Homo sapiens: one gene and its partners. Each later gene encodes a partner of the first gene's protein in a complex. Each region holds a gene or a part of one and is shown on either strand. Other genes may lie near its edges.

Region 1 (7,022 bases):
GGAAGGAGGTGGAGAGGGAGGAGAGAGGGCCTAGGACCCCTAGAGTCCTGGAGGGCTTGTTCAGCCTGACTTAGCAAACCACAAGGCAGAGGGGATTGCCCAAGAAGCTTTCCAGGAAGGAGAAGTTTTATGTCCCACAGGAGACAGTAGGGCCAGGGCTCCCCCACTCTGTGGCCCCATGGGAAAGGAGACCCAGGGTTCCCTATGGCATGTAAAGAAAGAGACTTCTGGCCCAGCTGCCCGTGAGAAGTCCTCACATTTCAACAACTGCGAGCAGAGATAGGAAATGCATTTAGGCCACTGCAAGGAGTTGAGTGAAATATAGAGATTTCTGGAAGGCTATTGCCTCAGTAAGTGCTCTCCTGAGCAGAGGCGAGAAGCCCTTGTCTGTGGGAGACAGGCCTGTTCTCCAAGCTCCTCCATCCAGGCTGCTGCCTCTTTCTCCCCAGATGACGACCTACGGAGCCTTCCTGCACAAGGGTTCCTTCTGCCGCAATTACTTCAACATGCTGGACCTGCTGGTGGTGGCCGTGTCCCTCATCTCCATGGGACTTGAGTGAGCAGCGGCAAGGGCCAGCCCTGGGCACAGACCACCCTCTGCTCTGTGCCAGGGCTTTGTAGTGGGAGTCCCACCCATGTTGGTGGGCCCCTGCCACAAGAGGAGGGTCTCTCGGGGCCTCCGATGGAGGCAGGGGGTCCTGTGGGTTGTCACCAGCTGGAATGTGGGTTGCCACCAGTGAAGTGGGCAGCGCTCTGTTCTAGAGACTGGCAGGAGATGCAGAGAGGAGGAAGTGGTCCCTCCCTCCCCGACCCTGTGGGGAGCACAGCCCCTGCCTTTGGGGTGCTCACCGTCTGACGGGAGGGACGGAGCTTCTAGCCACCCACAGGGGAAGGCTGTCTTCTGCTTCATGACACACCCATGAGAGCATGGTCCAGATAGCAGGGGTGGCTGTGCCCTGGAGTCGGGCACACTCTCACGGCTGGAGGAAAGGGAAGGGGAAGGTGGGAGTGTTTTCAGGCAGAAAGGCAGCTGGTGTGGAGGGCAGGATATGGCTGGAGGCTCCACCGCAGACTGGGCTGGCTGGAGCAGGCTGCCCTCAGCCCCCTCACCATTGCCGCCCCCCAGGTCCAGTGCCATCTCCGTGGTGAAGATCCTGAGGGTGCTGAGGGTGCTCCGACCACTCAGAGCCATCAACAGAGCCAAGGGGTTGAAGGTGAGAGAGGGCCCGGGCAGGAGCCCCAGAGAGGAATGGGAGGGGTTACAGGGGCCTCCTCGCTCCAGAAACCTCAGCCCAGCCATGGCTGGGACCCCTGTCCCATCTCCCTGGGCAGATAGGGGTAAGGATGAGGCTGGGGTAGCTATGCTTCCCCACCAGCCTTTCCCCACCTCCAACTCATCAGGAGGCAGCAAGTCTTGCACTCCTGGGGTTTCCTCAACTGGGCTAGCAGGGTTACTGTGGGTGCACCCCCAGTCCCCATTGGCCCCTCTGTCCCCAGCACGTGGTGCAGTGCATGTTCGTGGCCATCAGCACCATCGGGAACATCGTGCTGGTCACTACCCTCCTACAGTTCATGTTTGCCTGCATCGGCGTCCAGCTCTTCAAGGTGAGCCCCAGCCTGCGCGAGCAGCTCCCCCTCCCGCTCCCAGCCCTGGTGCCCACTCTCAAGCACAAGGAGCCCCACATTGTGAAAACAGATGTCTTCGAATGCACAGATTTCCATATGAGAATATTTTATTTTGAAAAATAGGTCTTCACCACACCAAACACATAAGTTTGCAGAAAGCCAGTAAGACATCGTTACATTTAAATAGCACCTTGAGTTCCACAAAAGCAGCCCAATGATAATCTCAGAAACAGTCAATGGGCTTCTAACACTACTGAAATGGTAGCAGAGGGTCATGTGTCTACTGAGTTGAAATTTAAATACAATTCAAGCCCCATCTCTTAAAGCTATTGTCATGCACTTAGAATTCTATCAAACAAAACAAGAAAACGGTTAGTTTGATGTCCATCTTTTAAATATGACTATGAAACTTCAATCTATAAATACAACTCTCCTAAATCAAACTTTTAAGAGACAGCCATCTTTCAATGATGGTTAATAGCTTTAAGAGATCTAATAAGCTAAAATGAAAACCTGACAGCAACTATCTTAAGCTCTTTTAAAAATTAAATACACAAGCAACACAACACATTATTGAGACTCAAAGTGAATTTGCTTCAACTGAATGCACAGAGTTTTAAGGCTAATATGTGGCAAGTCCAGATCCAGTTTCCTCAGTGACATCCATCCCGGGCCTCTTGGTTGACTGCTGACCACTGTTGCCATTGTATCTGCTCTCTCCCTACCCCACGTGGCTTTTCCTTGGGGAGGGAGGCCCCTCCTCCCAGGGCCCCACAGCCATTCTTCTCCCTTCCCACCCTTGCCCGCTTCCTCCCATCCTGCCAGGCCTGTGCCAAGCATACGCCCTATCCCAGCCCCACACTCCGCCTCCGTCAGTGCAGCTGGGCTGCGGCAGCCCATCTTCCTGGCTGGTATGTCTGGCATCATCCACATCTACCAGGAGCCTCTAAGGCTGGGAGTTCATCATCTCACATCCGGAGCCAACCTTATACTTTTCTCATTTTCCTAGGAGAACACAGCTATTCAGTTCCTCTCTAGGAATTAGCCCTACAAAGATGTCCCTCACACAAACCCTGATTTCCAGATGTCTCTGGCTCTCAGATCATTTGCAGGACAGAGAAATTGATTCCTAAGTATACACCAACACCCTTGATACTTCCTGCATGACCCAGCTGCTCCTCCTATCACCAAAGCACGATCTTTCAAAGTCATAATTACATAACCCCAGTCAGTCTTAGACATGAAATGGCATCATCTTACAATCATTCATTCATTCAACAAACATGTATGGAGTATGTTTTCCATACTTGAGCCAGGGCCTCTGCTAGAGCTGAGGGCCTTACAAGCCAAATCCTCGCTGAGGGCAGGGAACAGGCTCTGAGAGAAGCAGCAGCGTGGAGCCCCTAGAGAATCTTCGCGGGGAATAGGTCTTGTTGGTCCCTGTCCTGGAGGGACGGGAGGGATGGGAGTGTTTATTGTGTCTGGCCACTCTGCCAGCTGCGTGCAGCCTTCTCCCCCTGGCCCAACTGAGGGCTGTCCACCTCCTGCTCCCCAGCCCCCTCCTCTGCCAAGCTTGGGTCCCCAGAATCCCCTGAGGGCAGTGTCTGTGTCTGCCTCATCCCTTTGCCTGGCCCCCTGCCCAGGGCCTGGTGCAGAGGAGGCCCACCAGACACGCTCCCTGAAGGAATGAATGAGCCGCTGCCCTCCCTTTGGCTTCCACGTCCCTTCCAGACAAGCAAGAGCAATTGCTTGTCAACACCCAACTCTCGCCATGCTTTTGTCTCTCATTAAAAGACCCCCAGCTCCTGCCTTCCAGGAGGTTCTAGAAGCATAACAGTTCCAGTTGGCATTTGATGTCGCTTTTGACTCTGTGGAAACACCACGTGCATTCCACATTATAGCAGAGTCAAGCTTTGCTTTCCATAGTAAACTGGGCATTTGGTGTTAAGTGCCCAGACCCTGCCCAGTGGCAGCTCTATCCACTCTCTGCTTACCCCCAGTACCACCCGCCTCACCTTCACCTTCTGCTCCAGCAACCATAAAAAGGGCATGTGATAGGAACAGCACAGATCTGTGTGGCAGGGGCAGCGGGGGGCAAGGGCCAGCTGTGTCTTCAACTAGTGCTGTGTCCTTGGCCGAGGCAGTTTCCCTATCTGGGTCTTTGAAGGAACTGCACCAGAATCCGTGGATCTCAAGCCTGATTTAGCCTCTTTAAGACCTAGCCATCCTGCTGGACGCGGTGGCTCATGCCTGTAATCCCGGCAATTTGGGAAGCCGAGGCGGGCGGATCACTTGAGGTTGGGAGTTCAAAACCAGCCTGACCAACATGGTGAAACCCCTTCTCACTAAAAATACAAAAATTAGCTGGGCATGATGGCACATACCTGTAATCCTAGGTACTCAGGAGGCTGAGGCCAGAGAGTTGCTTGAACCGGGGAGGCGGAGATTGCAGTGAGCCGAGATCACACCACTGTACTCTTGCCTAAGCGACAGAGTGAGCAAACAAAAAAAAAAAAGACCTAGCCATCCACTACTTTCCTTCAAACATGTTGCTCAGGGACCCAATCTGAGACACAGATAAAAGGAGTAACTGCCACAATGTGCACATGTACCCTAAAACTTAAAGTATAATTTAAAAAAAATTCTATAATAAATAATCTGCAAAGCCTTGAAAAAAAAAAAAAAGGATTAACTGCTCTGGCCAAAGTCAGTGCAGAGGAGCACAGAGCCCCCCTACCTGGGCCTTGGGCTGGGACATGGGACCCCGCTTGACTCTGAGACAAGTTGAGTCATCAGAGCCCAGCTGGGCTCCAACTCTGCTGCTCCCGCCCCACTGGCAGGAGGATGGAGGTGGGAGGTGGGCAGCCCCTCCTCCTTGTTCCATAATGGGAGACCACAGAAGGCCTCCTGCAGCAGTGCGGGAGGTAAGGGGCTCAGAGGCTCAGCTCCCCGAGGGAGGGGCAGGGGCCAAGCTGCACTCATGTCCATCCCCTCAGCCCATCAGGGGGCACTCAGTAAATGCCCCTCTGAGGCACTGCCTTCTCGGTCTTGGCAGCATCTAGGCTGGGTGGGGAAGCCCTGGGGGAGCTGTGGGAATGAACGATGGTGAAGAAAGGAGGCTGCTCTGGGGCCCTGCCCCAAGGGCGAGTTCACGCCTCTGAGAGGAAGAGATGGGCTTGGGCTCCTTTTTTCAGATGCCTGCCTTCCCTCCCCCCTTCCACTGTTCACTCCCAGAGCCCACTTTTCTATCCTGTTTCCATGACAACATGCCTCCCTCCCTCCCTCCCTCTTCCTGGCTGCAGGGGAAGTTCTTCAGGTGCACCGACTTGTCCAAGATGACAGAGGAGGAGTGCAGGTACATGGGGCAGGGAGCACAGTGGGACGGTCACGGGGCAGGGAGCATGGTGGGACAGTCACGGGGCAGGGAGCACTGTGGGAGGGTTACGGTCACGGGGCAGGGAGTGTGGCAGGACGATCACAGGGCAGGGGACTGTGTGTTGGTGGATGACGGCCCTTCAAGCTGGAAACTGGGGAAGCTCAGCCTTTAGGCTTAGGAGGGACACTCACAGAGGCCCCTTTCCTCGGACTCGCCCAGCGGTGTCCCCTTGGGTCCCAGATCTGGAACTTCATTTCTCCTTCACACTCCCCACCCAGGGCCCAGAGGATGTGGGTGGGGCAAGGCAGCCCAGCCATGCCCTGTGGAGTGACTGGGCCTCCCTGCCACAGGGGCTACTACTACGTGTACAAGGACGGGGACCCCATGCAGATAGAGCTGCGTCACCGCGAGTGGGTACACAGCGACTTCCACTTCGACAATGTGCTCTCAGCCATGATGTCCCTCTTCACGGTCTCCACCTTCGAGGGATGGCCTCAGTGAGTGATGGCTGGGGCCTAGGTCCCTCATGGACATGGTCAGGTAGGACCAGGCAGCCAGCCTGCCCTTCTGCAGCCCCCACGGTGCTACTGCTACCTGTGGCAGGCGTCCAACAAACCCACCAACTCTCTGATGGTTTGATGGTATGTTGACTGGTCACTCCAAAGTAGGCCTGACCAGGGGTCTCTGACAAAATGCACGCAGTCCCCCATAGGTGTATGCCTCTCTGCCCACAGGGCAGATTGTTAATACTGATTGATTAGGGATAGATGGGGCAACCTCTTGAAAGGCAGGGCCATTCCAGGATTGGGTCTGGTCTTTCCTGGCGCCGACCTAACTCCTGTCCCGTAACTTGATTGTTGAGAAGGCTCTCTTGGCTCTCCACAGCCAGTGGGATAAAGCCCATCCTTCCCAGCCTGACTCTCTGCCTTGTCACCCCACCCAGTCTGTCCTCTCTTCTCTGCCCACCCCCAGGCTGCTGTACAAGGCCATAGACTCCAATGCGGAGGACGTGGGTCCCATCTACAACAACCGTGTGGAGATGGCCATCTTCTTCATCATCTACATCATCCTCATTGCCTTCTTCATGATGAACATCTTTGTGGGCTTCGTCATTGTCACCTTCCAGGAGCAGGGAGAGACTGAGTACAAGAACTGTGAGCTGGACAAGAACCAGGTGCCTGGGCTGCCTGCCAGAGGTGGAGGGCAGAGCTCCAGCAGGCCTCCTGCTGGCCCAAGCCCTAGGTTCAGCCAGGGAAGAGAGGCCTAAGGGTGACCCCAGAACCTGCATTTGATGCCAAGCCCTAGCCTCCATGCACCCTACCCTATCTCCAAACTGAAGCAATACAAGTTGGTAGAGTGGGTCTTCTTGTGGAACCTCATGATGCCCAGAGAAAGGAAGCCCTTCAGACCCACAGTCTAGTCTATAGCACCCATGGGAATGGGCTGTGATAACTCAAGGGGAACCCAAAGCCCAACAGGATTATTCCCCTAAACAGTTCACAGTCCTCAGCCACAGCCCCTGGCCACAGCTGCTCCTGACTTGCCCGTCAATCCCATGGATGTGGGTGTGGAGAGGGAGGGAGGGGCCTCTTGGTGCTGACCTGTCCTGTTGTATGTGTCACAGCGCCAATGTGTACAGTATGCCCTGAAGGCCCGCCCACTGAGGTGCTACATTCCCAAAAACCCATACCAGTACCAGGTGTGGTACATTGTCACCTCCTCCTACTTTGAATACCTGATGTTTGCCCTCATCATGCTCAACACCATCTGCCTCGGCATGCAGGTAAGGGCTCCCCAGGAGAAAAATGTCTGATCAGACTGGGACCTGGGCCTTGGGTAGGGCAGGATGAGTAGGGCAGGATAGCCAGGATTCCCCCCAGTAGACATTTCTTGTGCACTGTGTGCTGAGGTGCTACATGGAATACAGAAGTGAACTGCGCACAGGCCTTGTCACCAGGCACTTATGGTTTATTAAGGAGGTAATTCAAGCATAAAAATAGTACGGTAATTCTGCAAACAG
Region 2 (7,323 bases), on another chromosome or scaffold:
TTATTTTTATTATTTTATTTATTTACTTAGAGACAGGTCTTGCTCTGTCACCCAGGCTGGAGTGTAGTGGCACAATCGTAGCTCACTGCAGGCTTGAACTCCTGGGCTCAAGCGATCCTCCTGTCTCCTGAGTAGCTACGACTACAGGCATGCGCTACCATGCCTACTAGTTTTTTGTAGAGACAGGATCTTGCTATGTTGCCTAGGCTGGTCTCAAACTCCTGGGCTTAAGCCATCTTCCTACCTTAGCCTCCCAAAGCATTGGGATTATAGGCATGAGTCTCTATGCCTGGTTTAATTTAGTAATTTTTTTTTTTTTTTTGAGATGGAGTTTCACTGTGATGCCCAGGCTGGAATGTAATGGTGCGATGTCGGCTCACTGCAACCTCTGCCTCCCGGGTTCAAGCAATTCTACTGCCCCAGCCTCCTGAGTAGTTGGGACTACAGGCATGTGCCACCATGCTGGGCTAATTTTTATATTTTTAGTAGACACAGGGTTTCACCATATTGGCCAGGCTGGTCTCCAACTCCTGACCTCAAGTGATCTACCTCGGCCACCCAAAGTGCTGGGATTACAGGTGTGAGGCACCGCTGGCGGCCTAATTTAGTAATCATAACGCCTGAGGCATCTGGCTTACCTGACCTCTCACCCTGGGATGGGAATCACAGGATCTCTTCCTAAATATTTAATGAGTTGTGCTCAGAATGGAACCCCCTCTCCATTACTCCCAAGTCCTCCAGGCTCACTCATCTCTAGTGCTCCAGTATTACTTGGGGAGGCCAGGGCTGCCCTGCCAAGCATGATCTAGGGTCTTACCTTTCCTGTACCCTGCTACGCCAAAATAGCCAGAGTTTCAGTACTTTGGAGCTGCCAGGAGTTGGCACAGTGCCCTGGTGGTGCCCCCCTTGCCTAGTGAGTGTGTGGGCAGGCTGCAGCTCCTCTCTTGCCTGGCACGGGGGAAGGAGAGGAGGGAGATGAGCCGTTGGATTTATTTAGAGCCTGATCTCCCTCCTACTGCTTCAGAGGGGGCCTCAGGGAGAGCAAGGAGCCAGGCAAGAGAAAGGGAAGTGGGGGAGGGTGATCAGAGCCAGAGAGAGATGGGAGGGAGCAATGGGTCAGCAGGCTGCCCTCCAACACCATCCACATGTCAGTCTGCTCCTTGCAATAGCCCTTGCCTTCTCACCAGGGATGGGAAGAACCTCCTAGGGCCATCCAGCCCCACAGAGAGGTTTGTTTTCAAGCTCACCTTGGCACCCTGGGCTATACCAGCTGTCCCTTCAACTGTCAGAAAGAGGTGTCCACCAGAGCCTTGAAAATGATCTGATCTAGCGGCAATGTAATTAGCCCCAGAGGCCCCATGGAGAATTGGGCCCAGAAGGAGACCAGTCCCAGAAAAGGACAGTTGCCTATTCTGAACATCAGCATTCATCTATCCTGGGCCTGGCAGTAAGTGATGGGAGAAGACTTGAACATGAACTCCTCTTTCCGACCCAGGGGTGCTCCAACCTATTGGGGCCCCTTCCAAGCCATCTAGTGGTCCACTCCTAAGGAGGCCTTCTTACAGGACATTTGAGGGAAAGTTGTCAGCTCCAAGGGGCTGAGAAGCTGCTCCGCATTCTTGCCCCATCTTTCCAGGCACTCTCCCTGCTGTCTGAGCTCCGGGAATCACTGCTTAATGAGCTGATTTGTCTCAGTGGGTCAGGAGATAAAAGCAAAGAGGAGAATTAAATATTTATCGGTTGCCTGTTTCTCTGAGCAAAGCGCTTCCTCTCCATCCCCAGGCCCTCAGCTCCTCTGGCCTCACCTCCAGGCCCTCCATGCTGGGCAAGAGCTCAGGATGCCCGCTGCAGAGGAAGCCTCAGCAGGGGGCTGTGGAATAGATGGGGCTCAGTCACCTGGCCTACCCATGTGCTGGGCGCCCAGGTTTCAGCCTGGGAGAGAAACTGGGCTAGAGAAAGGGTGAGGAGATGAGGCAATGCGCAGAGATGGAGGGGGTGGAAGGGAATAATGGAGCTCCTCAAGTTTTAGGATCCGTCTGTCTGAAGAGGTTGGCCCCTGGCTCCCTGATGTCCTCTCAGCTCCCTGATGTGTCGTTTGCTTGAGGCACAAGAGGTCTAGAATGTCTGCCTCCCCAACCACCTCGGCGGCTCTCCTAGCTGTTGTGTTCAGACCCCAGAAATCCAGAATTTGGAACTCCAGACATGGCGTGTTCCCTCTCCAGAGCCTCTGTGCCCTCGGCCTCCAGCCCTGCCTTCTCCCACCCCTCTTTCCTGGGCCGTGGAGCCACCTGCTTGAGCCCTTCCCCTATACTGCCCCCTCTCTGCACACACCCGATGCCCCAGGGTCTGAGTCTGGGTCGCTGGGGAACGCTTGGCATGAAAATCCATCTCCCCACGTTCTTAGAGCGCCCCCCTACAAACCCTGCCCTGCCACTGAGGCGTTTTTCAAAGTCCTGAACCGGGGAAAGGGTTGAAGGGAGAGGAGGTGTCACCCCAACTTCCCCGCCCCCACCCTCATCGTGGGCACTCACCGCCTCCGAGTCCTCAAACCCGGGCACGTAGGAGTCGTCATACATGGGGGAGTCCGGGTCGGGGGAGCGAGCGGCGCCGGGGGCGGGAGCGGCCCGGAGGCAGGGGCAAGGACTGCGGGCCGCGCCCGGGAGATGCCACCGAGCCCCGCAGCCCTGCGGGCGGCGGCAGGGAGCGAGAGAGCGCGAAGGAGGGAGCGAGCCGCGAAGACCAGCTGCTCGGAGCTCAGATCACCGCTCCCCCCACCCCACCCCCCCAAACCCAGCCGGTCCCACCCCGAGCGCGGCTGAGGAATCTGGCGCCGGCTCCTACAACAATAGTGCCCGCCCACCTGACCCCCTCCCCGGGAGAAGGCGGGGGCGGCGAGGGGGCGGCGGCCACCGGGGAGCCCGGGCCAGGCCGGGAGAGGGGAACGAACCCGTGCTAGGTGGAAGGTGGGTCCCCGAGCACCTACGGGGCCGTGGCGGCGGGGAGGAAGGGGAGGAGAGGCTGCGGGCAGGGCGGATCCAGGCAGGGAGGAGGCGGGGCGAGGAGAGATGCGGAGACAGAGACGCTCGGCAACCCAGGAACTACTCCGCCGGGAAACAAAGGGCTGCGGCGGGGGAGGGAGGGGGCGCTGAGACCGCGAGGGAGACGCGACCCGGGCGGAGACTGGAGAGGGCGCAGGTGTCGAGGAAACCGGAGAGAGAGAGGCAGAGGGAGGACGGAGAGGACAGGAAAATGGGGAGACCGTGGGAGACAGAAGAGGCGCGGGAACGAGCGGCAGACGGGGGAGGGGTCCCAGGCGACAGCAGGGCGGGTCTGGGCCCGTGCGTCCCGGAGGCTCCGAAAGCAAACCCCGCAGTGGTCCCGGGGAGGAATGGGCTTGGTGCCCCCAGGCTAATGACAGGACGGCAGCTCCTGCCCCAACAGGTGCCCGGCCCCCTCAGTACGGGGACGCTGCGGCAAAGGCGGTGTTGCCCAACCCTTGAGAAGGGGGGAACTTTCCGTGAGCTGGGTAGGCCTCCCCACACCTGTTGCACGGATAGATTTTGTCTTAGTCCTGCCAGGATGGGGGTTCCCTTCCCCACTTCCCTGCCAAGGATTGTGCCAGACAGTGCCAAGGCATCCGTGGGAACTGGGGCAGAAAGGGGCTGTTTTAGGTGAGCCTAAAGGGAAGGGGAAAGAAGCCAGAGGGTGGAGGTAGGGGGATAGTTGTGGGTGGGATCCTGGCTACACTCGGGTTGGGAGAGGAAAGGGCCAGTCTCCTCGGAGTCACTAGGGTAAGGCCAGATTCTCCCCTTAGCAGAAGGGCTTGTACCACTCTGCACCACTCAGTCTCCTTTACAGGAGCATTGAGATTTGGGGTAAGAGAGCCGCAGCCCTTATCTTGAGGAAACTTTCCCCAAAGATCCACCCATTTGAGCTCTTTCCTTTTTTCATCTCCTGAGCAAAATTCCTTCTTTGATTTTTGACTGCCTACCTTTGTGCCCCACGAGGAGGATGTGCGTAGACAGGGGTTACACTTGGAGGCCTCCTGGTGCCCATGCTCTTGGCCCTGAGCTCAGTCCTTTTCCTTCCCAATTTCTCACACCCGGGAGTTCAGCAATCTGCTCATCCCTCCTTGGCTTGAGGAGAATCAGAAATCCAAAACTCTGACATGGCTTAGTAAGATCTATGGTAGAAAGCACTGTGCATGGGAGAGAGAAAGCCCACCCAAACCAAGTGGCTTCCCACCTGGGTCACTTATCGGTGTTATCTTGGCAAGACAAAGAAGAGCTGCATCTTCAGACTGACATCTTTAGTCTGTCTACTGTGGGTGGCCCAGAGCAGCCCTGCCCAGCACCTTCCTCATGCTGGGTTTGACAAACAACTTTGTTGCAGCCCCTGTGGCTGAAGGGACTGTCTCCTCTCCTGAGTCCAGCACCAACTGGGGTTTGGTCATATACTGGATTCTTCTGTATTGGAAGTTCCCAGACACTGCCCACTTTTGTGCCCTCACCCAGTTACGCAGTATTCCTTGTATCCCCCTCTTTCATCCTTTCTCTTCAATTCCTTCTTTCAGGGGCCTGGAGAGGTGTCAAAGAGTAAGACCCTCAAGGTGCTCTTCTCCTGGGAGATGGCTCTAGTGAAGAAAGCAGTGGTGGAGGCAGCTGTTTCTCTTCCCATCCCTGCATCCACTCTCCTGGCCTCTCCTTTTGGGACTCTCTCCACCCACAGAAGGTCCTGGGGCTGTAGGTAACAGCGGATCTGCCATCGGCAGCACTCCTTCCTCACACTCCTTGTAATCTCCTGCGACAAGGTTGTCTAAGTCTGCTCCTGAGGCATGTGTTGCCATGCCAACCATCCCCAGGAGATGGGTTCAAGCTCCTCATACCTGGGCCCATCCCCTGGGTCCTGCAGTAGCTTCAGAGCTTCCCTCCTTCTTCTCATATCTCTGGGTTGCTACCCAATGTTCCTTTCATTTCTCACCCACACCTGCCTACTCTAGTTCTAATACCAACTTGGTGACTTCTTGTCCTGTGACAGGACATGTGCCTGTCAGTGTCCATGTAGCCCTAACCTCTTTTCTTTTTCATGGCTGGGCATAAAGGGAGAGAGCTGAGGGCAATAAAGGATCAGGGGAGAGGCTCCTCCTGCTGATTCTTTCTAGGAGAGAGTTGTTAGACTGGCAGCTGGCAGGTACCCAAGTCATAGAAGCAAGACATAAGAGGAAAAGCCTGAATAATCAGGTTTGGGAGCTGGAATATATTGAAACCTTCTTGGGAGGTTTCAGAATATATTCTAGCTTCTCCTCTAAGTGTACCAGGAAGCTGGGCAGATCCCAGTCCCTGGGCACTGAATGGGGAAACTGAGACAGAAGCTAGGCCTTCTGGGAAGACTTAAAGACTCCTCCCCAGCAGTTTTTAAGATCTGGACCAGGTGGAGGCCCCTACCATTCTGGCTGCTAGGCTGCCAGGGAACTCAGGGACAGGCGCTAGGGGAGCTTGGCAGAGCCCTTCTTGTAATCTAGCCCCTTTTTTTCTGGCTCCTCAGTCAGTCCTCTCCTCTCATCCAATCCCAGTACTAGGAAGCTGCCAGCTCTGGCCGCTCCCTCCTCTCTAACCCGGTGCCTCTTCCACCCCTGGCCTCACTTCCTCCGGTTTCCCTGCCTCCCCATCGGTGCAGTCTCCCCCAAACGCGTGCCCCCTTCCTAGCTTGGAGCGGAGCTCTCCTCCCACCCAGTGGGGAACCCCCTTCCCACGACCCCACACCCCCCCCACGGTTACCTCGTTCAGCAGGAAGGTTGCACTGGAGTCAGAAAAAGACATAGACCAGGCTAGCGGCCTCTCCCCCTCCCCCGGGCCAGGGGCTCCGAGGCGGGAGCAAAACCCGGCCGCTGCTCTGCACGCTGCTCCCGCCTGCACGCCTGGCCTCGCCCCACGCCCGCCGGGCTCCGCCGCCTGCTCCCTTCCCTCTCCCCTGGTTCCCTCCCTCTTTCTCCTCCCTCCTCCCTCCCTCCCTCTCCCTTCCTTTCTCGCCGCCTCTGTCAGTCTCTGGCTCTCCCTGCCTTTCAGCCCAGCCTCTCTCCACTTCCGTCTCTCCTGTCTAAGGTCCTCGTTCTGTTTTTCCGTGTGCCTCCCACTGTCCTTCCATCCCCACGTCGCACCCTCGCTCCTCGGCTTCCCCTGCCGCTCTGCTTCTTCCCTAAAGTCCTCCCGAGAAAGAGTAGGGACTCTGGAGTTTCCGCCGCCGCGGGCAGAAGGGCAGGAAGAGCTCCAGGGCTGCCCCAGCTCCTGAGCTCTTGGCGGAAGCTTCTGCTCCCTCCCGGCCCTGCTCCGTGCGCCGGCCGCCCATCCTCCGGCGGCGGCTGCGACCCCGACCTCGGCGGGGGAAAGGACCGAAAAGCAAGAGTGCTGGTGCTCTGCTCGCCCGCCCAAGCGTCAAGGCGCCCATCCACCCGTCCCCGGCTCGGCTCTGTGTCTCCAGAGGGATCGGCATCCCTGTGGAGAGAGCCCAGCTGGGATCGCCCCGCGCCCGCGGAGTCTCTGCCGTCTCCCCCCTCTCCTGGGTTCTGGTGCAGCGGGTCTCAGCTCCGCGAAGGGGAAGGGCGAGGCGAAGCGACGCGGCTCCTTCTCGACCCGCTGCAGCGCCCCTTGGGCTCGCTGGCCCGGCGGCTACACGCGCCCTCCAGGTGGCGGCACCGCCTGGTGTCCGGTCCCGGGGCCGCAGGGTCCGGCCCTGCCAGCAGGCGGCGCTGCCCAGGCCAGAGCAGGGGGGACGCACCCCGGATCCAGACACCGCCCAAGCCCAGGACGAACCCCTCTCCCCCTCCTTTCTCCAGGAACTGCAGTCCCAGCTCGAGACCCCCAGTAGGAGACCCCAGGCTGCGCTCTACTTATTCCCACCCCGTGGGGCTCCTTCGAGACACCCGCGCCCTTCCGGGACCCTAGCCCGTCCCTACCTCCATCCTGGTCTCGAGGGGCGCCCCAGCTAAGCCGGGCAGCGTCCTGGCCGGGACTGGGCAGCAGGGAGTACAGAGTCGCGGGACCGCTCCTCGGGTCAGTACCCCTCCCGCCCCTTTCTGCGGGTGCGTCAAACAGGACAAGCCCAAGTTCTGGCGGGGGAAGGGGGAGCGGGGGTGTAGTTCCAGTTGGCTCTCTCTCTGGACCCTTCTGAGCGGACAGACCGCTCATTGGTCCCTTCACACCCCCAACGACCCCAGGCTGGACCCTTCTCCAGACCAAAGACGGCGCCTGGGGCGGGGAGAGACGGACCCCCCTTCATGGAGACAGACACACGCTGACTCCGATTGACCCAGGTCCCCAACTTCCC
Region 3 (7,255 bases), on another chromosome or scaffold:
CCGAATAGCTGGGATTACAGGTGCCCACCACCCCATCTGGCTAATTTTTTGTATTTTTAGTAGAGATGGGGTTTTGCCACGTTGGCCAGGCTGGTCTCAAACTCCTGACCTCAGGTGATCCACCCGCCTTGGCCTCCCCAAGTGCTGGGATTACAGGCATGAGCCACCTCACCCAACCTGTCCATCTCTTTACGTACATTAACTCATGTAATCCTCAAAAGAGTGCTAAGAGATGTATCATTATTGCCCTCATTTTAATCCAACTCCTCATTTCAAACTAATCTAATCCAATTCTGCCAGTCTGACAAGAAGGAAACTCAAGTACCTTTAGAGATAGACAGCTCTCTGCCCAAGGTCACAAAACAGGAAGCAAAAGGCAGAGCTGGGCTGAGGACTGGTCTCTCTTCATGTGCTAGACATTGTGCTGCATGCAGATTTGAAGTCATCCCTGTCCCAGGGCTCCCAAGAGCCCACTGCCCACTTTCCCAACAAGAGGCACCCCAGTAGTTCTATTGCCACTTCTGAGGGAGCCCTCCAGAGTGTGGCTGCCATTCATCCCCCCGGCAGCACCTGGCCCTCGCTCTGCCTGCCCCTCGTTTCTACCCTCCGAATCTGAGATGGGGCAATGCTCCTTCCTTCCCAGGAGAGGCTGGCCAGGCTGCTTCCGCCTCGTCTCTGATCCACTGCAGTGGGAGTTGTCAGTACTAAGAGCAATGACTCAGACTTAGTTCAGGAGAGACCGCTCTGAAACACAAAGGCTGCAGGCCAGGAAGGACATCGAGAGGTCATGGCATCCATCCCCCTGCCTCCGCCATGCTTGCCCCACCTCAGGCTTCTGATGTCCAGACTAGATGAGCCCCACAGTCCTCCAACTTCCCTGGCTTTCCTCGGTTGCCAGAACTACGGGTTCCCCTGGGAATTCTTCTCTGTATCTAGTTAGCATCTCTTTGTCCAGGAATCACCACTTCTGGGTTGGTTACCCCACAGAATACCAGGCTCCAAATGGCCAAGGAAAGTGAGAGAAGGAAGCGGTTTTCTTCTCTCTGCCTCAGAGAAAGCACTGGGAAGGGACAAATTTCCCAGAAGAAAGGAGGGAAAGAAAAATAATGGCCGGGCACGGTGGCTCACGCCTGTAATCCCAGCACTCTGGGAGGCTGAGGCGGTCAGATCATGAGGTCAGGAGATCAAGACCATCCTGACTAACACGGTGAAACCCCGTCTGTACTAAAAATATAAAAATTTAGCCGGGCGTGGTGGCAGGCGCCTGTAGTACCAGCTACTTGGGAGGCTGAGGCAGGAGAATGGCGTGAACCCGGGAGGCGGAGCTTGCAGTGAGCCGAGATTGCACCACTGCACTCCAGCCTGGGCGACAGAGCGAGACTCCGTCTCAAAAAAAAAAAAAAGAAAAATAATGGACTTTCCTTGACTAGACGTGGTGGCGTGTGCCTGTAATCCCAGCACTTTATCGGGGAGGCCAAGTCAGGAAGATGGCTTGAGGTCAGGAGTTCAAAATGAGGCTGGGCCAACAAAGTGAGACCCCCATCCCTACCAAAATAAACACTTTTTTTTTTAAAATAAATTTTCCTGTCTTGTCTTCCTGTCTTGTCTGGGCTAAGTGCCACTCTACACTATCTCATTCATTCTAGCAGTGGGGTAGGCACGATGACTATTTTTCAGATGAAGAAACCAAGGCTATAGGCCAGACACGGTGGCTCATGCCTGTAATCCCAGCACTTTGGGAGGGTGAGGCAGGTGGATCACCTGAGGTCAGGAGTTCCAGACCAGCCTGGCCAACATGGTGAAACCTCTCTCTACTAAAAATACAAAAAATTAGCTGGATGTAGTGGCGGGCACCTGTAATCCCACCTACTCGGGAGACTGAGGCATGAGAATCGCTTGAACCAGGAGGCGGAGGTTGTGGTAAGCCGAGGTCCTGCTATTGCACTCCAACTTGGGCAACAAAAGCTAGACTCCGTCTCAAAACAAACAAAATCTCTAAAAGATTGAGTTATCTGCCCAAGGTCACACACTTAATTAGTGACCAAAGAGGTACTGGCCCCTAAGGAACCCAAAGCCCCTGCTCTTTGGGAGGAGACAGGGGCACCTCCCCCAGAAGATCTCCAAACTCAGAAGAAGGCCCTGTGTGTTCCAGCCCAGGATAAGTGGAGGGCCTGATGTTGCTGTCTCAATGCTGCAAGCATCCCAGCATCTGAGCTGCCCAGGGAGGGAAGGCTGGACTGGCCTGGGCTGGGCAGGAGTGAGAAGGACAGTCCAGTGGGAGATGGGGGAAGGTTGGCCATGAACAGGCCTTTGGGGAGACTGATTTGATGGCACTCAGGCTCCATCCCACCTTCCTCAGGAAATCTCGAAGTCAGAGCCCCTACAACCATGAACCCTCACTGTGCCCTTGTCCTACTTCTGCCACTGGCAAATAAATCTCTATTCCTGGACAGGGTAACCTGAGCAGGGCTCCAATGGTGAGCTCGTGCTTGGGAGGGCAGAGATCCTATGAATGGCTGTGTGCATGGGGGGAGGTGAGTGGGGGGTGGAGGTGTTCACCCCACCCCTCAACTTTCAGGCTAGCATAAGGGCCCCCTTCAGCACCTCAGGCCCCCCATGTGGCACCCCCCACCCACAATCTTACCACCCACAGCAGAGGAGGAGGGAGACTTAAACCCAGAAGTCTCTCCACCCACACCAGGGAAAGGTTCTCTCAGCCACCAGTGCATCTCCCTTTTCTTGGGCAGACCAAGAGAGGAAGCCAGATCTGCTGGTCAGAGCCAGAAGGGGCAGAAGGAAAGAGGGCTGGAGGTGAGGGAGGGGGACCTGAGAAAATGGGTCCCAGATAATCAACATGCATTAGAAGAGGTATCTTGGTCAGGTGTGGTGGTTCACACCTGTAATCCCAGCACTTTGGGAGGCTGAGGCAGGAGGGTCACTTGAGCCTAGGAGTTTAAGACTAGCCTGGGCAACATAGCGAGACTCCATCTCTACAAAAAATTTTAAAATTAGCTGGGTGCAGTGGCATGTGCCTGTGGTCCCAGCTACTTGGGAGGGTTGAGCCCAGGAGGTCCAGGCTACAGTGAGGTGTGATCAAGCCACTGCACTACAGCCTGGCCAATAGAGCAAGATCCTGTCTCCAAAAAAAAAAAAAAAAAAAAAAAAAAAAAAAGAAGAAGAAGAGAAGGAGAAGAAGAAATATTGGAAATATCTTGAACGGGCACAGTGGCTCACGCCTGTAATCCCAATACGTTGGGAGGCCAAAGTGAGAAGATCGCTTGAGCCCAGGAGTTGGAGATCATCCTGTGTAACATAGCAAGACTTGTCTCTACCAATAAATTTTAAAAATTAGCCAGGCATGGTGGCGTATGCCTGTGGTCCCAGCAACTAGAGAGGCTGAGGTGGGAGGATTGCTTGAGCCTAGGAGTTTGAGACTGCAGTGAGTTATGATCGCACCACTGCACTCCAGCCTGGGTGAAAGAGTGAAACCCTGTCTCTAAATAAAAAAATAAAAAAATAAAAAATAGAAGGTTATTGTGGAGAGAGGGGCACCTTGGAAGGTGATGGTGAGGACCTCTTCCCCCACCTCTCTGTATTATCCCCTGATCTAACTCCAGTTGTGGTAGGATCTTTAGGAGGGGAGCGTGTCTCAGAGAAGTTTGGGGACTTTGGGTGTGAGGACTGAGCCCCCATCTCTGCTGAAGTTCAGACGCCAAGACTGGAAGGGGATAGAGTCATCCGGCTTTCCATCACAAGGAGGAATTGTCCGGCCTGGCCTTTGACACATACACCATAGTCCAGTTGTGTGTATATTTGGAGAGAGCCTTTTCAGGGTATAAAGGCATCCAATTAATGGCACAGATGGGTCCCCATTCTTCCTTCACCAACCTCTGGCATCTATCAATCTTCGCTCTTTGGAAGTCCTAGCTTCGATCTCACTCTCCGCTATCTTGCTGCGGCCCCAACCTATTTCTATTCCCTGCAACCCATCCAGACGCTACTATGATCTCCCCAAGCTTCCCTCAATCTGGTCACGCCCCTCCATCCCGGGTTTTTCAGTGTGAAACTCCCTCCTCCGCTTCTTTCCCCGCCAAGCCCCGCCCCATCGTGTCGAGCCCCCCAAGACTCCGCCCAGTTCGCCCTCCTGGCCACCGAGGCAGCCAATAGCTGAGAGCCTGATTTGCAGGGCTGCGCGGGGGAGCGGCGTAGGGCAGGGGGCGGGACCAGGCGACCTCCTAAATCAAAGTTGGGCGGCGAGGACTGGGCGGAGGGGCCGCCGGGTGCCGGGCTGGGGCCGGCGGGGGAGGGGAGGGGATGGGGGGCGGGCGCAGCGGACGGCGGAGCCGGCTGGACACGGACAGCTCCTTGGCTCCCTCCCTCGGCTCATCCCCGCGGCCCCACTTCCCTCCTCCCCGCGCTGCGAGCAGCATCCTCTGCAGACCCTCGGTCCTCGCGCCCGGGGTCGTCCCGCTCCTGCGGCTCAGCGTGGTGGCCTCCCCTCGCCCGCCACCCCGGCAACTTTCTCTGCCCGCTCCCGCGGGTTGGGGGCTGCCGTGCCGGGGGCTAACTGGGGGCAGCCTCTGGAGAACGGCTTCAGAGTCCCGGAGACGCCCGCCACCCGCAGCCTGCCCGCGGTGGGCCTGCCGTCGGATCTCGGCACCCTCTCCTCCCCTCTCCCCGAACCATGACCGAGATGAGCGAGAAGGAGAACGAACCGGATGACGCGGCCACCCACAGCCCCCCAGGGACCGTCTCCGCCCTCCAGGAAACCAAGGTAACTTGGGGGGCGCAAGGCCTGTCCGCGCCCCGGGCCCGGGCGCCCTCTTCCCGGCGGGGTCCTCCTGTGGGCCCGGGCGTCCTAGGGTCGCGGTCGCGAGGCCCGCGTGACCACTGAGGCTCCGCGCCGCTCCCGGGGGTAGGAGTGGGTTGGCGACGAGGGGCCACAAGGAGCCCCCGATCACACCGGCACCGCACGCCCGCGCGCGCCATCGCGACCTTCTGGGGAGGCGGCCACTGGTCTTCGTTGGAGAGATGGGCGCAGCGAGGCCGGAGGGCGCGCGTGGAGCGGTGCGGGCGGGGTACGCGCCCGGCTGTGCGTGCGAGGCGCACCCTCCAGCGGCCGCCGGGTCCCAGTCCCGGGCTCAGTCCGCGCCTCTATCCTCGCTCGTGTCTCTGAATTTGTCTCTACAACCTGCGTGTCTGTGTCTTGGTGTCTCTGTGTGCGTCTCTCCCCGTCTCTCCCGGCGTCTCCGGGTGTTTATCTCCGCGTCTCAGGGCGTCTCTCCCTGCCCCTCCGCAGTCCTGCATTCCCCGCTCCTAGCCCTGTTGGGCTCGGGGACGCGAGGCCGCGGCCGGGGGTGCGCAGCTGCGGAGTCCGCGAGGGGGCCTGCAGCAGCGCCGGCCGTCGGTCACGGGCGAGGACGGGGGCCTGCGGTTGTGGCTCCAGACCAGAAAGACAGGCAGCCCCGCGCCCCACCACGGGAGCGGGACCAGAGGAGGGGGAGCGGGTAGAAGCAAAAAGAGAAGTCATCGTAATTAATGAATGTCATCATTAACCCTAATTATGGATGATTGTTACTCCTGAGGGAGTCACCATGAATAAATTACTCCCCGCGAAGGCAGGCGGAGCCCAGACTCCTGGCGCTGAAAGGGGTGTGGGGAGGCCGCCGCTCACACTCAGCACTCCCCCGACCTCTAATCCGTCTGCTCCCTTCCCAAGTTCTAGGTGCTGGCGACTGGCCCGCGAGAAGTTCTGTTTCTGCGGGATCAACCTGAGCGGGCCTGGGGTTGGGATAGAAAGGGCTGTGCCAAGGGCGCGCCCTGCCACCTCCCAGACTTCAGGCCAAGACCTCCTCCCTCCCCCTTCACCCGGTATTTTGTTCCCATCCTGCTCCTGTTCTCCAGAGGCGAAAGGGGACAGTGAGGACCAGAAATGATGGGAGCCTGGGCTCCGGAGGCGTCCTGGGTTCGCTAGGCTTCTTTCCACTGTCCCCCTTCCTCCTTCTTCCATCTTGACCATCCCGCAGGAGCTGAGGTTAATTCAAGGTCAAGGTCATCAAGGGAGTGACCGGAGGAGGAGGCCGTAGGGTCAGGGTGGAGTCTGGCAGAGGCACCCCAGGGAGCCCCCATCCTGCACCAGGGGACCCAGCAGGTCTCCACATTCAAGTCTTCACATGCACACCTGACTCTCTCTTGCCCCCTTCTAAAAATGAGACTCTGGTCTGTGAGGCCAGAGCTGACTCCCCTTTAGAGAGCCAAGTCTCAGTCTCTCCTGGGAAAGGACTAAGATGTTTGGGTGGGAGGATATTGCTTGGAATATTTGTGACAACTTCTGTCAAGCAGAAGGTCTAGGAGCTGAACCTCCCCTGAGTTCCAATGCCCCTGATTTCGGTTGCCCTCTAGTCACCTGGGTAGACATACACAGTCCCCCTGCTTGCCTCCAGGGGCTTGGGGGCCTCCCAGGCCCTGCCCTGTTTCCCACACCAAGGCCTGTCCTCTCCAGCCTCCTCCTATGTGGGAGTGCTGGAAGGCGGGCAGGAGTGTGGGGTAGTGCTGCCTCAGTACTCCAGCAAGCTGCCTGCTCAGCTGTGTGGGGAGGGAAGGTCAAGGGCCACAGGTCTGTACCTCTCCCTCTTCCCAGGCCAGGGACCCTCCAATGTTGTCACCTCTGGGTCTGAGCTTGGAGATTCAAGGAGTAGGGGAGGGGAGGGGTTACACCCCTGATCCGGCCCTTCTGTGTCAGGCCAGCTGGAGCCCCGGCCCTCCGCCCCTCCCCTATACATCACTCTTGTGAAGGATTCTGCACTAACACAGACTGGGCTGTGGGTTGGGTCGGGGGTATTCAGCAGGGCAGAGGTGGGCAGAGAGAGAACTCAGGACCCCTGCTAGCCTCCTTCCATCCTGCACCTCAACCTGGCCCAAAGAAGCTCCTGTCTCCAGACTGTGGGTGGAGATGGAAGAGTACAGTTGGGTGCCGCCCACCAAGCTCAGTGTGAGGCAGGTACAACAGAGGGGGCCAATGCCCTTCAGGCAGTGATGCCAACATTCCAGGCTTATTCATCAGTGTTGGTGCCCCCTGGGAATCACTGGCCAGCCTCCTGCTTGCCCCCAGGCTGAATCAGCCCTGCACCCAAGCCACCCAGCAACCTTCCTAGCGAGTCCTCCTCCTCTCTTGGTCTCCTTCCCTTCTTATCACATAAGGCCTGCCCATCACCCTTTGTTGCCACCCCTGGGAGGACCACCCCATGCCATCTCT
Region 4 (7,022 bases), on another chromosome or scaffold:
GGAGACTGCAATTGTCTTCTATGAAGCCAGCCAGCCAGCCATTAGAGAGATGTGTAAAAATGTAGCTATTTTTATTAAAAAAAATTCGGCCGGGCGCAGTGGCTCATACCTGTAATCCCAGCACTCTACTAGGCTGAGGTGGGAGGATCATGAGGTCAGGAGATCGAGACCATCCTGGCTAACACAGTGAAACCCCGTCTCTACTAAAAATACAAAAAAATTAGCCGGGCGTGGTGGCGGGTGCCTGTAGTCCTAGCTACTTGGGAGGCTGAGGCAGGAGAATGGTGTGAACCTGGGAGGTGGAGCTTGCAGTGAGCCGAGATCGCACCACTGCACTCCAGCCTGGGCAACAGAGCGAGACTACATCTCAAAAATATATATATATATATTTTAACATGTATCAGATTTATTGTGAATTTTTAAATAAATGTTTTAATAGTTTTCCATTTTAGCTTCTTTAAAGAGGTTGTGAGATAAAATGTTTGAGAGCTGCTAGCATAGAAAAAATGTGAGTGCTTAAAGCTTGCAACTGTGATTTATGTTAACATGTTAATTTTGCAGATAATCTTATAGCTCCATCTATTATAAGCCCCTTGTGCTGTATATAAAAAGGCCCCAGAGAAAGGAGTCAATAATGTACCTTGTACTTTACCTGGATGTAGTTATTACTCTGTTAAAAACTCATTATCTTTTACAGGTTTTACAAAGGTTAATAAAATCTCGAGGGAAATCTCAAGCTAAACACCTCAACGTCCAGATGGTAGCAGCTGATAAACTGGCTCAGTGTCCTCCAGTAAGTTATCTCTATATACAGCATAATCCAGTTACAGAGATCAGACCTTTTTTTTTTTTTTTTTTTTTTTTTTTTTTGGGGGACAAGGTCTTGCTCTGTTGCCCATGTTGGGAGTGCAGTGGTATGGTCTTAGCTCACTGCAGCCCTGAACTCCCGGGCTCAAGTGATCCTATTGCTTCAGCCTTCCAAGCAGCTGAGACTATAGGTGCATGCCACCATGATCGGCTAACTTTTTTTTTTCCCCCTGTAGAGACGGGGTCTTGCTATGTTGCCCAGGCTGGTCTAGAACTCCTGGCCTGAAGTGATCCTCCTGCCTTGGTCTTCCAAAGTGCTAGGATTACAAGCATGAGCTGCCATGCCTGGCCAGAACTGGCATTATATTTTGAAAAAAACAGTCAAACACCTGTCAGGGAAGAGAATCCTCATCACTTACAGTGGTATTCATTCCAAAGTAAACTGTCCTCCCTCCTTCCATGATCATGTGTTTTGAGCACAAGTAATCCAAACGATGATCATAGCTTACCAAAAGCTTCCGTACATCCTGCAGTAACTTCACTTTGTTAATATCCAACACAAGATCCTGGTTCCGAAAATTTGGCTTGTATGATGAGTCTATTTGGAGTTGGTATATTATTCATTTCTGATCATAGGGATCAAGTTGTCTGCTCTTAATAACTGTCTGAGACATTTATTTTCACATGGTCTCAAATCAATTTCTAAGTAATAAGTTACCTAGATTCTCACTTGTCGTCTATGCTTTACATGCAATGCCTTGAGGTATTAGAGCTTTCCTAGGTTTAGTTTTGGAGGCAGGGTCTTGCTTTGTTGCCCAGGCAGGAGTGCAGTGGTGGTGTCTCAGCTCACTATTGCAACCTCTGCCTCCCGGGCTCAAGTAATCCTCCCACCTCGGCCCTCCAAGTAGCTAGGACTACAGGCAAACGCCACCATGCCCTGCTAATTTTTGTATTCTTAGTAGAGACGGGGCTTTGCCATGTTGCCCAGGCTGGTCTCAAACTCCCGACCTCAAGTGATCCATCCACCTTGGCCTCCCAAAGTGCTGGGATTACAGGCATGAGCCACTGCACCAGGCTTTTTTTTCTTTTTAAGCATAGCCATTTCAGGGTCTATAAATATTTGATTGCTTAATATATGTTAAAATTTATAATAAACACTAAAAAATCTTTTGAAAAGTGGCATTATTTTCTTCTCTACTGAACTACTGTGAAGTTTGGACAATGTCAAAATTTCACATCCTAATCTTACCTTATTAATTTCTAAATTCAGATTTCATAATCTTGGGCCGGGCATGGTGGCTCATACCTGTAATCCCAGCACTTTGGGAGGCCGAGGCGGGTGAATCACTTGAGGCCAGGAGTTCAACACCAGCCTGGCCAACATGGCAAAACCCCATCTCTACTAAAAATACAAAAATTAGCAGGGCTTGGTGGTAGGCACCTGTAACCCCAGCTACTTGAGAAGCTGAGGCAGGAAAATCACTTGAACCTGGGAGGCCAAGGTTGCACTGAACCAAGATCAGGCCACTGCACTCCAGCCTGGGTAACAGAGTAAGACTCTGTCTCAAAAAAAGAAAAAGAAAAAAGATATCACAATCTTTATGTCAAGAACAGGCTTCTTCCTATTCTATTCTATTCTGTTCAAATATATATACATCTCTTTTCTACCATAGTATCTATGCCTTTTTCATTGCTGATTGATAGACAACTTTTCTGGGTTGCCATGTCCTTAACAACTGTTACCTTTCTGGCCATTATTTATTAGTTAAGCATTCAGTGCCCTCAACAATGATTTGAGGTAGTCAGACACTTCCTAACTAAATAAAAAGGGAGATAGTAGCAGCACTTATAGAAGCAGGAGCAAGTACAAAGGGGTGCAGCTCATGAGCCCCTTCCTCCTCTTATGGAGGTGGGAAGGGGGTGAAAACTGGGCTGGCATCAATGTGGTCTGGAATGTCTGCCTCTGCAGGAGCTGTTCGATGTGATCTTGGATGAGAACCAGCTTGAGGATGCCTGTGAGCACCTTGCCGACTATCTGGAGGCCTACTGGAAGGCCACCCATCCTCCCAGCAGTAGCCTCCCCAACCCTCTCCTTAGCCGTACATTAGCCACTTCAAGTCTGCCTCTTAGCCCCACCCTAGCCTCTAATTCACAGGTAAGGGGAGTTTTTATATATATCTATATATACAATCTTCATAGAAAAAAGGTTGCCTATGGTGACACCTCTAGGATCCAAGCCCAGTAGCCTGCTTGGGGCTTGTTCTAGTATATTAACTCAAAGCAAGTCCAGCATGAGCTGTGTATGTACCTGTAAGAAAAGCACCATCAACAGAATATATTGGGAACATACACAGACTACCGAAACTTTCTAAACAGTAGCATAGACTGTGGAAGTGGATCACCTAGATTCAAATCCTGGCTGCACCTCTTACCACTTGTGGGGTGGATAACCTGGGGCAAATTTCTTAACTGTTCTTACCTCAGGAATAATAATGGCAACCTGTCCAAGAGGCTGCTGGAATTAATAATCTCAAGAGATGATCTTATAGGGCTGTTGTATTAATGAGTTATTATATACAAAGGGTCTACAGAACAGTGCCTGTCCCATACTGTATCACTGTATCAGGTAAGCATTTGCTATTTTTAATATTCTCACATACAGTCAAGCAGAGGTAGTTAAGTTTACACCGCTGTATAGAAAAATCTCAGGGACCTGCATCTGTATTTGAGCCACAGGAGAATAAATAAAAGAACATTTTCCCTGCTGCTGCTTTTTTTTTTTTAAAGGAAAAAGTTACCATGGGCACTGTTCTAGGCACTTACAAAAGTCCAATTTAATATAGTATAGTATAAAGCCTTATAAATGCCACTGGATGTTACCAAAGGGATGAAGCTAGGTTAGACTTCATTTCAGCTTTTCGGATGCTTAAAAAGGACTCTGCTTGAATGCACTTGCTCTGGGACATGTTCTTTACACACTGACCTTGGTTAACGCCTGGTGTGCTCCTTTCGCTGCCAGGGTTCTCAAGGTGATCAGAGGACTGATCGCTCCGCTCCTATCCGTTCTGCTTCCCAAGCTGAAGAAGAACCTAGTGTGGAACCAGTCAAGAAATCCCAGCACCGCTCTTCCTCCTCAGCCCCACACCACAACCATCGCAGTGGGACAAGTCGCGGCCTCTCCAGGCAAGAGACATTTGACTCGGAAACCCAGGAGAGTCGAGACTCTGCCTACGTAGAGCCAAAGGAAGATTATTCCCATGACCACGTGGACCACTATGCCTCACACCGTGACCACAACCACAGAGACGAGACCCACGGGAGCAGTGACCACAGACACAGGGAGTCCCGGCACCGTTCCCGGGACGTGGATCGAGAGCAGGACCACAACGAGTGCAACAAGCAGCGCAGCCGTCATAAATCCAAGGATCGCTACTGTGAAAAGGATGGAGAAGTGATATCAAAAAAACGGAATGAGGCTGGGGAGTGGAACAGGGATGTTTACATCCGCCAATGAGTTTTGCCCGTTTGTGTTTTTTTTTTTTTTTTTTTGAAGTCTTGTATAACTAACAGCATCCCCAAAACAAAGTCTTTGGGGTCTACACTGCAATCATATGTGATCTGTCTTGTAATATTTTGTATTATTGCTGTTGCTTGAATAGCAATAGCATGGATAGAGTATTGAGATACTTTTTCTTTTGTAAGTGCTACATAAATTGGCCTGGTATGGCTGCAGTCCTCCGGTTGCATACTGGACTCTTCAAAAACTGTTTTGGGTAGCTGCCACTTGAACAAAATCTGTTGCCACCCAGGTGATGTTAGTGTTTTAAGAAATGTAGTTGATGTATCCAACAAGCCAGAATCAGCACAGATAAAAAGTGGAATTTCTTGTTTCTCCAGATTTTTAATACGTTAATACGCAGGCATCTGATTTGCATATTCATTCATGGACCACTGTTTCTTGCTTGTACCTCTGGCTGACTAAATTTGGGGACAGATTCAGTCTTGCCTTACACAAAGGGGATCATAAAGTTAGAATCTATTTTCTATGTACTAGTACTGTGTACTGTATAGACAGTTTGTAAATGTTATTTCTGCAAACAAACACCTTCTTATTATATATATAATATATATATATATCAGTTTGATCACACTATTTTAGAGTCTTAATGCCAAGTCAGCAGATTTGCTTTATGAATTACAGGGACTAGAAATGCCCACATTCAGGAAATTTGTAATAACATTGTCTAGACACCTATCCTCATTCTAGTAGAAAGTGTGTACATACTGTAAATATGTGTGATTGCTTGACTTGAAAAGGTTTGAATTCTGAATGTTATACCATCCTTGTAAGTAAGTTTGTAATTTCCACCATAAATTATGGTAAATATAAAACTCCAGAGGTTGTTCTACTCCATACAGTTCACACTGATTGTGACACATTCTTAGTAGCTAGTGTCTGTTCTAGTCACTGCACTGGAGTCTACGAGCCGGAACTCGCTATATGCACGTGTGTGTGTCCGTATGTAAGAAAGTGTGCACCGAGTGACTGAATGGTTGAGATGAATTGGAATGCTGAAGACTAACGAAGAAACTAGAGACTGATATCGAGCATTCTGCCCACCTCGCTCTGTATTTAATTAATTGTGCTATATGTTGCTTTAACAACCCATTGAGCAGTCAGGGAATGTGAGTAAGCTTGCTGCCAAAGGTAACTAGGAAAGCATTCATCTGCTGCCTCCTTGTTTTTGCTCCTAGAGAGTGAAAATACAGGCAATTTTACTGTGAGTGTTTCACTGGAAATGTACAATCTTTGTGTGTTAGAGTATTTGTTTTAGTAAGAAATGTTTACACAGCTTGTGGAATTATTTCGTGGGAAAATAAATTTTTATAACTTCTCCCACTTCAATTTCTAACCTTGCCTATTGTTCCTGTTGTTTGTTTACCTCCCAGTTACCTACCATTCCTCCCCACCACCGACTCCAGCAGGTTCACTGTCTGTCAGAACCCAGAAGTGCTTCTTATAACCAAAGTTTCTGTTCTTCAGAAGAAATCAGGGCAAAATGGGGTGACTTGAAGTGAATAAAATGTTAAGAATATTATCCTACATAAGACATGTACACAGAAGGGGAACCTTGAAGACATTATCTCCATGCCTCAATTACACTGCTGTAAGAAGCTTACAATGTCATCATGTTTAAGGCTAAGACCTTTTCCGTGTCTCAAGTGTATATTTTGTCCAGTTATAACTGGATGGTAAGACAGTATTAAGAGTGCAAGTACCTGGCACTTGAAGTTTGTCCCAGGAAAATGCCTGTGTATAATTACCTAACTTCAGATCTGCACATTAACTTATTTAACAAAATAAATCAGCCGGGCGCAGTGGCTCATGCCTGTAATCCCAGCAATTTGGGAGGCTGAGGAGGGTGGATCACCTGAGGTCAGGAGTTCAAGACCAGCCTGGCCAACGTGGCGAAACCCCGTCTCTACTAAAAAGATAAAAAATTAGCCAGGTGTGGTGGTGCACACCTGTAATCCCAGCTACTTGGGAGGCTGAGGCAGGAGAATTGCTTGAACCCAGGAGGTGGAGCCTGCAGTAAGCCAAGATCACACCACTGTACTCCAGCCTGGGTGACAGAGTGAGACTCCATCTCCAAAAAAGAAAAAAAAACAAAAAACAAAAAAAACTATCCAGCAAAATTATAAAATCTACTTTGTTTTGCTTCCTTGATTATTCCAAGTTCTTACCAAATATTCTTAGCCTTTTATAAGTAAAACTGTTTTACATTTAACTCCTTATTTCCCTTACCCCCAAGAAAACGCAATATTAAAAATGATTAAGCTGGGGTGGTAGAGTATACCTGTAGACCCAGCTACTTGGGAGGCTGAGATAGGAGGATCCCTTGAGCCCAGGAGGTGGAGGCTGCAGTGAACCGTGACTGTACCAATGCACTCCAGCCTGGTGACAACCTGGTGTTTAAAAAAAGAAAATAAAAATTAGTTACATATATAATGTTTTATCAGCTTATATATGAAAAAATTTCCCTCAGTTCGTTAATTAGCCCTACACTGTTTACATAAATTTATTTACTGAGTATAAAATCAGTAGTCATAATAAACTTGACAATTCTTACATTGGTAGGAAACCATATTCTAATTAAAATTGAATTTATAAAATATTTCTGATAAAACTTTTGTCATGGTAAGAGATTCACAAT

What was found.
Region 2: CACNA1S (region 1) and CACNB3 share a complex: the UniProt entries of both Homo sapiens proteins name them as parts of the calcium channel complex.
Region 3: the proteins of CACNA1S (region 1) and STAC2 are in contact, whole or in part, in a crystal structure (PDB 6B27), measured with the Homo sapiens proteins. Residues at the interface, in NP_000060.2 of Homo sapiens: Glu749, Pro750, Glu751, Ile752, Pro753, Ser755, Pro756, Arg757, Pro758; in NP_945344.1 of Homo sapiens: Tyr301, Lys302, Phe303, Gln306, Glu307, Asp310, Asn326, Asp328, Trp329, Phe340, Pro342, Asn344, Phe345.
Region 4: CACNA1S (region 1) and CACNB2 share a complex: the UniProt entries of both Homo sapiens proteins name them as parts of the calcium channel complex.

What each region holds. Positions count from the first base shown.
Region 1 is NC_000001.11:201,060,421-201,067,442, reverse strand, and holds part of CACNA1S (voltage-dependent L-type calcium channel subunit alpha-1S), read left to right. Parts: intron 1-449; coding exon 450-556; intron 557-1,126; coding exon 1,127-1,214; intron 1,215-1,497; coding exon 1,498-1,605; intron 1,606-4,928; coding exon 4,929-4,981; intron 4,982-5,352; coding exon 5,353-5,499; intron 5,500-5,974; coding exon 5,975-6,176; intron 6,177-6,626; coding exon 6,627-6,785; intron 6,786-7,022. UniProt on the Homo sapiens protein: Pore-forming, alpha-1S subunit of the voltage-gated calcium channel that gives rise to L-type calcium currents in skeletal muscle.
Region 2 is NC_000012.12:48,814,183-48,821,505, reverse strand, and holds the start of CACNB3 (voltage-dependent L-type calcium channel subunit beta-3), read right to left. Parts: upstream 3,011-7,323; 5' UTR 2,577-3,010; coding exon 2,532-2,576; intron 2,461-2,531; exon of another isoform or gene 1,564-2,460; intron 1-1,563. UniProt on the Homo sapiens protein: Regulatory subunit of the voltage-gated calcium channel that gives rise to L-type calcium currents. Increases CACNA1B peak calcium current and shifts the voltage dependencies of channel activation and inactivation.
Region 3 is NC_000017.11:39,222,932-39,230,186, reverse strand, and holds the start of STAC2 (SH3 and cysteine-rich domain-containing protein 2), read left to right. Parts: upstream 1-4,241; 5' UTR 4,242-4,684; coding exon 4,685-4,774; intron 4,775-7,255. UniProt on the Homo sapiens protein: Plays a redundant role in promoting the expression of calcium channel CACNA1S at the cell membrane, and thereby contributes to increased channel activity. Slows down the inactivation rate of the calcium channel CACNA1C.
Region 4 is NC_000010.11:18,535,404-18,542,425, forward strand, and holds part of CACNB2 (voltage-dependent L-type calcium channel subunit beta-2), read left to right. Parts: intron 1-697; coding exon 698-793; intron 794-2,776; coding exon 2,777-2,962; intron 2,963-3,790; exon of another isoform or gene 3,791-3,826; coding exon 3,827-4,321; 3' UTR 4,322-7,022. UniProt on the Homo sapiens protein: Beta subunit of voltage-dependent calcium channels which contributes to the function of the calcium channel by increasing peak calcium current. Plays a role in shifting voltage dependencies of activation and inactivation of the channel.